2 linked regions of the Homo sapiens genome follow. The protein of the gene in region 1 purifies or fractionates together with the protein of each later gene. This does not show direct contact. Each region holds a gene or a part of one and is shown on either strand. Other genes may lie near its edges. The genes, in order: CACFD1 and TM9SF3.

Region 1 (3,816 bases):
ACATACACACACACACACACACACACACACACACACACACAGCCCTTTGAACCCAGCACTGGCCTGAGGAAGGTGGCCCCGGAGGAACCCTGAAGGCACATGTCCACCAGGCTATAATGCCCCTGCCACCCTGGGGCTCAGCTGGCCAGACTCCCAGGGGTGGGATGCTGCTGACCCAGGAGCCCACCAAGTCCCCAGGGCAGTACTGGGCAGGGCCCAGAAAACCCCACGCCCAGCCCACCAGCCTGCCACTCCTGGCCTCAGATGCCACTCCCGGCCTCAGATGCCACTCCCAGCCTCAGACGCAGATGGGCCCGAGAGGTGTTCCTGGGAAACAGTTCACTTAGCAAGACCCAGTACCTGCGCTCCAGAAGCTCAGCGCAGGCCCAGCCTGGGGTTGGCCCCAGATGGAATATCTTCCACACCCGCCCGCTTCTGCCAAACCCCACCTGGGCTAAGCCAGGCCCGACCAGGCACCTGCCCGATGGCTGAGAGCCAGCCTCACGGTCAGAGAGGCCAGCGGGCTGAGGCCACAGGGCAGAGGGAATATGGGGGTGCACATCCTGGGCACCAGCTCTCTGCATCCTCCCTGGGTAGGCCTGGCTCCGGACAGCCTGGCACCCAGGGCAGTGGGGACAGCTCTGTGTGGGGAGGTGACTGTGGCCTCTGCCCAGTTCTTAAAAGGCAGAAGCTCCCTGAGGGCAGGGCTTGGGCAGGCCAGCAGGAGCACCTGAGTGGGGCTGAGGTCAGACCCACTAACCCACTAATGGGGCTGGGCTGTGGCTGATGTTGACGGGGCCACACCAGGGAGAGGGTGGGCACCCTCGGTGCCAGGGAGAGCCTGCTCTCCCCACTTCCTTAGCACCAAGGCCAGCAGGGGCGGGGGGTGATGGGCAGAACCTAGGGGCCCCAGCAGGCCCAGGGAGGAGGGGCAGCCGAGGGGCCTTGAGGTGGCCTGTCCAAGGTTCCCAGGGCCAGCAGGGAGCATCCCCCACCCAGCTGTCCAGTCACTGCCAAGGCTGCAGTTCCAGGTACCGGGGTGCACCTTAGGAGCCCTGTGGGCTTCTTCAGAAGGCAGGGTGACAGTGGGCGCTGCACCCTAGGCAGCAGTGGGAGGTTGCTGGCAGCGGCAGGCTGTCCCAGGCCCTGGGGCTCCACCTGCTAAGAGAGCTGGGGGAGGTCCCTCTGCTCAGTGCCCAGGTGGCAGGGTCCCACTTGCCCCTCCCCTCAAGCCAGGACCAGCATCTCCAGGGGAAGCTGCTCCCAGGTCACAGCAGGTCACAGGCAGCCCTGTCTGTGGTGTGAGATCTGCAGACCCACCCAGCAGAGGAGTAGGGCTGGGTAGTGTCCACACAGCTGCTGCAGGCTCTGCCTCAAGTCCAGCAGCCCAGACCCTCACACCAGCAGCCAGTGGCTCCTGGCTTAAGCCAGTCTGGAGAAAGGAGCAGAGGACTCCAGGTGTAGGGACACGTGCAAAGGCCCCTCTCCAGGCTGTGCCTCAGCGTGGACAGTCCAGGCCTCACTTGGACCCACACAGAGCCAGAAGAGGGGACAGGGAGGGAGGGGCGCCCAGCCCTTCACAGCTCCCCCTCCAGGGTCTCCGCGAGCTTCTCCTCATCCGCCTGCTGCCTCTGCTGCTGGATCCTGGCATAGGAGATCGCATCGCCCCTGGGGAGAGAGAGAGGCAGCGTCACGTGGAGCACCAGCCCCATGCCCACAGCCCTCCTGACCACTGCCCGGTTCCTGCCCTGTGACCCAGGTGTGACCTGCAGGCATTCTGATTTCCCCAGAGACAACTGCTGGGGTGGCAAAGGCCTGTCTTGTCCCCTCTGAGAATGGCCCAGGCTCCCTGGGATGCTGGGCTGCGAAGGAACCAGCCTCAGTCTGGGCTCTGCAGGAGAGAGGGTGGCAACTGAGTACAATGCCCGGTGCAGACCTGGGAGGGGAAGGGGCTCCCACCAGCCATGTTTTTGCTATCCTTGCTGCAGGCCGTGACGGGGCAAGACTGGGCCACGCAGAAGTGTTGTAAGTCCTCTGTCTTCACCCACTCGAGCTGAGCCCTGGAGGCACCAATGAGTTACTGGGACCTCTGCCTCGGTCTCCACTAGCTAAAAGGGGCCACTCTCAGATCCTCCTCACTGAAGGACTTCGGGGGGCGGAGGGAGGAAGGCCCTGCCCAGGGGCTGGGCCTGGCAGACGCACTTTTTGCCCAGAGCAGAGAGTCCGTACAGCACCCCCGTAGCAAAGGCGATGGCGTTGCCCAGCAGCGTGGTCAGGGTCAGGCTGATGACGATGGGAACGACCGCCATCCTGGGGGGAAAGCAGAGGTCAAGGGGGCACTCCGGCCCCACAGCCACCACATCCTTCCCCGCTTCCCAGACTCGGCCCAGCATCCTTCCTAGACACCCAGGGCACAGGAAGGATCCCCAAAAATCAACTGAGACACAGCTTCAGAAAGTCCTTCATCAGCCCTGAACTTGTCTGTAAAACTGTTCCATTCTGGGAATAGGATCCAAAGCTTTCATCAGATTTTTGAAGGGGTCTGTGATCCCAAAAAGAGCTAAACAGTAACGAGATGGTCCAGTGCCCTCACTGTGAGAAAAACTGGCCAGAAAGAGCCTGTGACAGAGAATCTGGCTTCCCATCCAGGACCTACTAGCTTCGCGGGCAAGTTACTCGGAATCTCCACCGCGGAGAGGGGATCAAAGCTTGTCCGAGGTCAGTCATGTTACCTACACAATGCTGACCACCACAGGCACTAAATAAATGCTCTGAGTTATAGAGTAACACCAGCCACATCGCCACAAGTAAGGTCCCTGGAATTCAACCACATGGAACACAGGGTCTCATCATGGGAGGGCTGCAGGCTGCGGGGTCTGCGGGGTCGGCCCAGACCTTGCTGCAGTTTGGCGTCACCTGGTGGCAGGGTCCACTGGGGCTTAAGCGTCCCCGGGGCTGATTCTCCATCCTGGCTGGAATTTCCAGGCCAGCAGCAATTCCTGGGCTAACTGGGCCAGGAGGATACCTGCAGCCTGGAGGCCAGCGCTCTGTCCTGTCGCCTCCCTAGAGGAGGCTGCCTGTGCAGGAGGACAAGACTCGTGGCCAATTGCATTCTACCTCAGTTTCCATTCTTGTAGACATGTGGTTGTGAGATTTTTCTGTCGTTAAAAAATTTCAAAATGATAAAATAATAATAGAAATTACAAAGAAAAAGACCACGGCGGGGAACCTTCTGACAAAAACAAAATTAAAGGCAAACAAGAGCCTGGAAAAATAGTTGCAGGAAATACAACCAAGGATCATGAAATCTTTAATACAGAAAACACACTGAACTTGCTAAGCAGAACACTGAGGTTCCCACAGGTTAAAAAGTAAACTCGAAAATTTTCATATCAGAAAATGCAATGGAAACACGTGGGAAAATATTTTTCCCTCTTAGATAACAAATAGATAAATGCGAATGTGAAGTGGTGTGCAGCCCTGGGCTGGGGTGGGGGCGGGGGAGAGACTCAAGGGACCTCTTTGGAAAGCAACGTAGCCACGCATCTTAAAATATTTTTAATGATCAGAATCTTTGACCCAGTAATTCCACACCTGAAAATAGATATTAAGGAAATCATCATAAACACAGAAAAAGTTTTAGCAGACACATGTTTATCACACCTCGATTTACACCAGTTAAGAAATTAAGAACAGCATGATACATCCAGCTGAATGAATATTCCTGTATTGAAAGAATGTTATAAAGTCTGTGGTGATGTTCAAATGCTTATATCATTACTCTAAGTGAAAAAAGGCAGGATACAAACTTATTCA
Region 2 (3,816 bases), on another chromosome or scaffold:
TCATCCAGAACTTGAACATAAAGGAGTAGGGAACTGGTTTCACAGCTTAATCACTATTTCTAACAAACTGCTCACATTTTTTATCATATATTAAAAAGTTGGACAACAAAAGGGAAAATATTGACAAATGCTAAGCAATTGATAATGTCTTTTTGAGACTGTAGATTCCTTTATTGACTGTTATGTGCACAGAAGGCAAGATGTGCCCTCACTTCAGCTGCCACTCAATTGCCTGTCACACACATTGTGCTGTAGTAGTACTTTTGCTTATACAATTTTTAGTGAACAAATATGTGCAGGCCTTAATTGGGATGAGGTGAAGGAGATAGAATAAAAGACCAATATAGCATTACAAGCCTTCCTAATCAATGACAAAATTCATTCAGTTCAGTATATACACAGAGATAAGCAGGAGAAACTTTATTCTGAGATTTGCATGAAAATGAGTTAACCTGGCTGTGATATCTCCAGTATACTGATATTTGGTATAGAACTCCTTTGAGCTATATATATCTTATTACAGTTGAAAGTGTTTTAAAAAGAAACTATTTTCAAAAGGATACTCAAATCAAATGCTTGTGGAATCCCAGAAGCTCTTCAGTAGGACCTGAGAGTTCTTTGGAACAGTTTGAAAACCATTCTTCTAGACCATGTAATTCAACATAGGAATGTTTTCTTCATTTTCTCTGTAATTCTTATTTGAAATTAGAGTTCTGGTAAACTAAGGGAAAAATATATAGGTCTTTATTACAATGTGTTAAGGTTTATGAGTCTTGTAGTTATTAAGAAAGTAAAAGCAAAAATTGAGATGGAATTTATCACTCCCCATATTTACGACATATGTATAGTTCATAACATAATGCTTAAACTATCTTAAAAACACCTGCTTATTTTTCACATTTCACGTATTTTAATATGAGCATAAATTCATATTATTCATAGGCCTAGGCCTAAACTGAAACGCAGATAAATTGAGTTCCTGAGTCTGATGTTTAAAATGGTATTATGGAGCTCTGTAATTCTCACATATTTATATTTGATCTGAAAAGGAGATGACAGTACCCTTTGGCTTGTTTAAAAACACATATACACACACAAAAGGATCTAATGAAGAATTTTTACTAATATTGGTTCAAAGAGATCTTTCCTTCTTGTGCAATCACTGTGGATTTCCTACCCCATACCTCTTCATTTCTCTCAATCAGTGTCTTCACATGTTTCATTCAGTTTTTCTCTCACTTTTACTTTCTATTTATTATAACCTAAAGTGTATAATTTAAAGACATCTTAGAGGTGATTCAATTCTACTCCATTTTACAGAAGTTCAGAGTGAAATGATCTTAATTAGATGGTTGGCCGGAAAAGAGCTGATTTTATAAAGAAAAAAAGTCACAAAAATAAATGTTTCTAATTGGCCACTTTGGTTCTAAAATCTCCGTATGGTCTTCTCTGTAATTTTAGACTTTGCACTACTAATGGGCAGGAAAATATTTGTACTATTTTACTAGTGACACATAGATAGCGATCTCCTTCTATTAGGATTCCAAGGTAGTGTAGGATAGAAAAGAGTGTGGGCTTTGAGGCTGGCAGATCTGAGTTGAAATTTTGGTCTGGCTCTCCACTAGCTATGCAATTATGGGAAGTTACTTATCCTTCTCTGAGTCTCCTTTCCTTCATTTGCAAAATAAGAAAATAACACATATAAAGCTCTTAGTGCATTTTATGAGCTCAAAAAGCATAGCCAGATAAGTAAGTTGGTTATAATAATGAAAGACAATGGATAAATATATTAAAAAAGCATGACAGCTGAGAGTGAAAGAGGAGAAAAAGGGATTGTGGCAGAGATAGTCTGGAAGAATAGGAAAGAATGGAAAACCAAATTGGATAAGAACTAGTTCAACTTGTATTCAGTTTAGTTCTAATACTTTAAAGCACACCTTTTTGTTTTCATTAGTGTACTTCTTGCACAATTTTAGCTCATATTGAACTTAAACATTTTCTTTTGTGGTCAAATTGTGTTTAAATTGTGTCTCTTTTATTTGTTTATATTAATGTTATTGTTCTCTGAGTAATCACACATTTTTATTTAATTTACAGGTGGCCGTTTGTTGCATCTGTTTTTTTGTTATTCTTCCTCTAAATCTTGTTGGTACAATACTTGGCCGAAATCTGTCAGGTCAGCCCAACTTTCCTTGTCGTGTCAATGCTGTGCCTCGTCCTATACCGGAGAAAAAATGGTAAAGAGAATGCTAAATCTTATGCGATTGTTTCACACAATATATAAGTTCTTAAGGCTGTTGTGTACATGTAACTTTAGAATTGGTATGTATTTATGATAATGACAATCTTAAGTTTGAGCCTAAGAAGTTCATTTTACTATTTCCTTTAACCTACATTGTTAAGAGTAATAATAAATTATACCCTTATTCCACTTTCTGAATATCGTGCCATTTAGAGTTAAGTCAAATGCTTTTCTATGGTGTAGAAGTGGGTGTGAACTAAAGCTGCAGTTTTACTAATCTGCAGGCCAAATCTGGCCTGCTCCCTGTTTTTATCTATAAAGTTTTGTTGGAACTCAGCCATGCCCATTTGTTTACATATTCTCTGTGGCTGCTTTTATAGTACAGCATCAGAGCTGGCAGATCAGTAATGTCAGAGATACTATCACATGCAGAACCTGAAATATTTACTATCTTTCCAGATATTTTAGTACTGTACAATTTAGTGTACATTTATTACATTCCCTATTTATAGGAATAGTTGTATAGTAAGTAGACTGCATTTTTATGATAACGGAGATATATATATATAAAGTCTCTGTCCCTAGATATTTTACCAGATTATAAATACAGCATATTCAGGTGCTTATACAAATAGGTGATAATTTTGCTCTGTCCCTTCTAGACATGGAGGCATGTAGACATTTATAGAAATGGAGGATGAATAAAATAGCCCCTATAGTTTGAATTGGCCATATTCTTTTCTTTCCTTAGATTGGTGCTTATGAGAGACTTTAGTTAGAACTTTTGTAGTTTATTATTTTATTTATTTATTTATTTTATTATTATTATTATTTTTGAGATGAGGTCTCACTCTGTGGCCCAGGCTGGAGTGCAGTGGTGTGATCTCGGCTCACTGCAAGCTCCACTTCCTGGATTCATGCCATTCTTCCGCCTCAGCCTCCCGAGTAACTGGGACTACAGGTGCCCGCCACCACGCCTGGCTAATTTTTTGTATTTTTAGTAGAGATGGGGTTTCACCGTGTTAGCCAGGATGGTCTCGATCTACTAACCTCGTGATCTGCCCACCTCGGTCTCCCAAAGTGCTGGGATTACAGGCGTAAGCCACCACGCCCAGCCTGTAGTTTATTTTTTAAAGTAATTTTTTTTTTGTAAATCAGTATGTTAGGACCCATCAATATCCTTACTGGGAAGGGTAAGTTTAAAGGAAAAGCATAGTCAGAAGTCACAAAAGTTCCTCTAAGTCACTAGGGCCAGTGAAGGAGAGGTCTGGTGAGAGCTTCCTCACCAGAGATGCATTGCAATTAGGTATAGGAAGGCTTGTGTGTGCCTCTGTTTTGGGGAGTATAATCCTGGGAACCTAAATCTGAATACTAGATCTGCCTCTCATTGACTGTGTCACCTTGGGCAGATCACTTTTAACCTCTGTGTCTTGGCTTCCTGTAAAGTAAGGAAAGAAGACTACATTAAATGATTTTTAAGTTTTTTTTTCAGCTCTCAAATTTTACCATTTTCTTCTCAGTTTTTTAGTTTGTTAATTTCATAGTTATTAGTTTAGGATCTTTTTTGTGCCAGG

Evidence for each region.
Region 2: the proteins of CACFD1 (region 1) and TM9SF3 purify together in Homo sapiens (affinity purification with mass spectrometry; one large-scale study listed by BioGRID and IntAct). This does not show direct contact.

Annotation. Positions count from the first base shown.
Region 1 is NC_000009.12:133,466,415-133,470,230, reverse strand, and holds part of CACFD1 (calcium channel flower homolog), read right to left. Parts: exon of another isoform or gene 2,311-3,816; coding exon 2,203-2,310; exon of another isoform or gene 1,989-2,202; intron 1,892-1,988; coding exon of another isoform or gene 1,767-1,891; intron 1,760-1,766; exon of another isoform or gene 1,669-1,759; coding exon 1,578-1,668; coding exon of another isoform or gene 1,520-1,577; 3' UTR 1-1,519. UniProt on the Homo sapiens protein: Transmembrane protein which mediates synaptic endocytosis and fitness-based cell culling.
Region 2 is NC_000010.11:96,531,472-96,535,287, reverse strand, and holds part of TM9SF3 (transmembrane 9 superfamily member 3 precursor), read left to right. Parts: intron 1-2,097; coding exon 2,098-2,237; intron 2,238-3,816.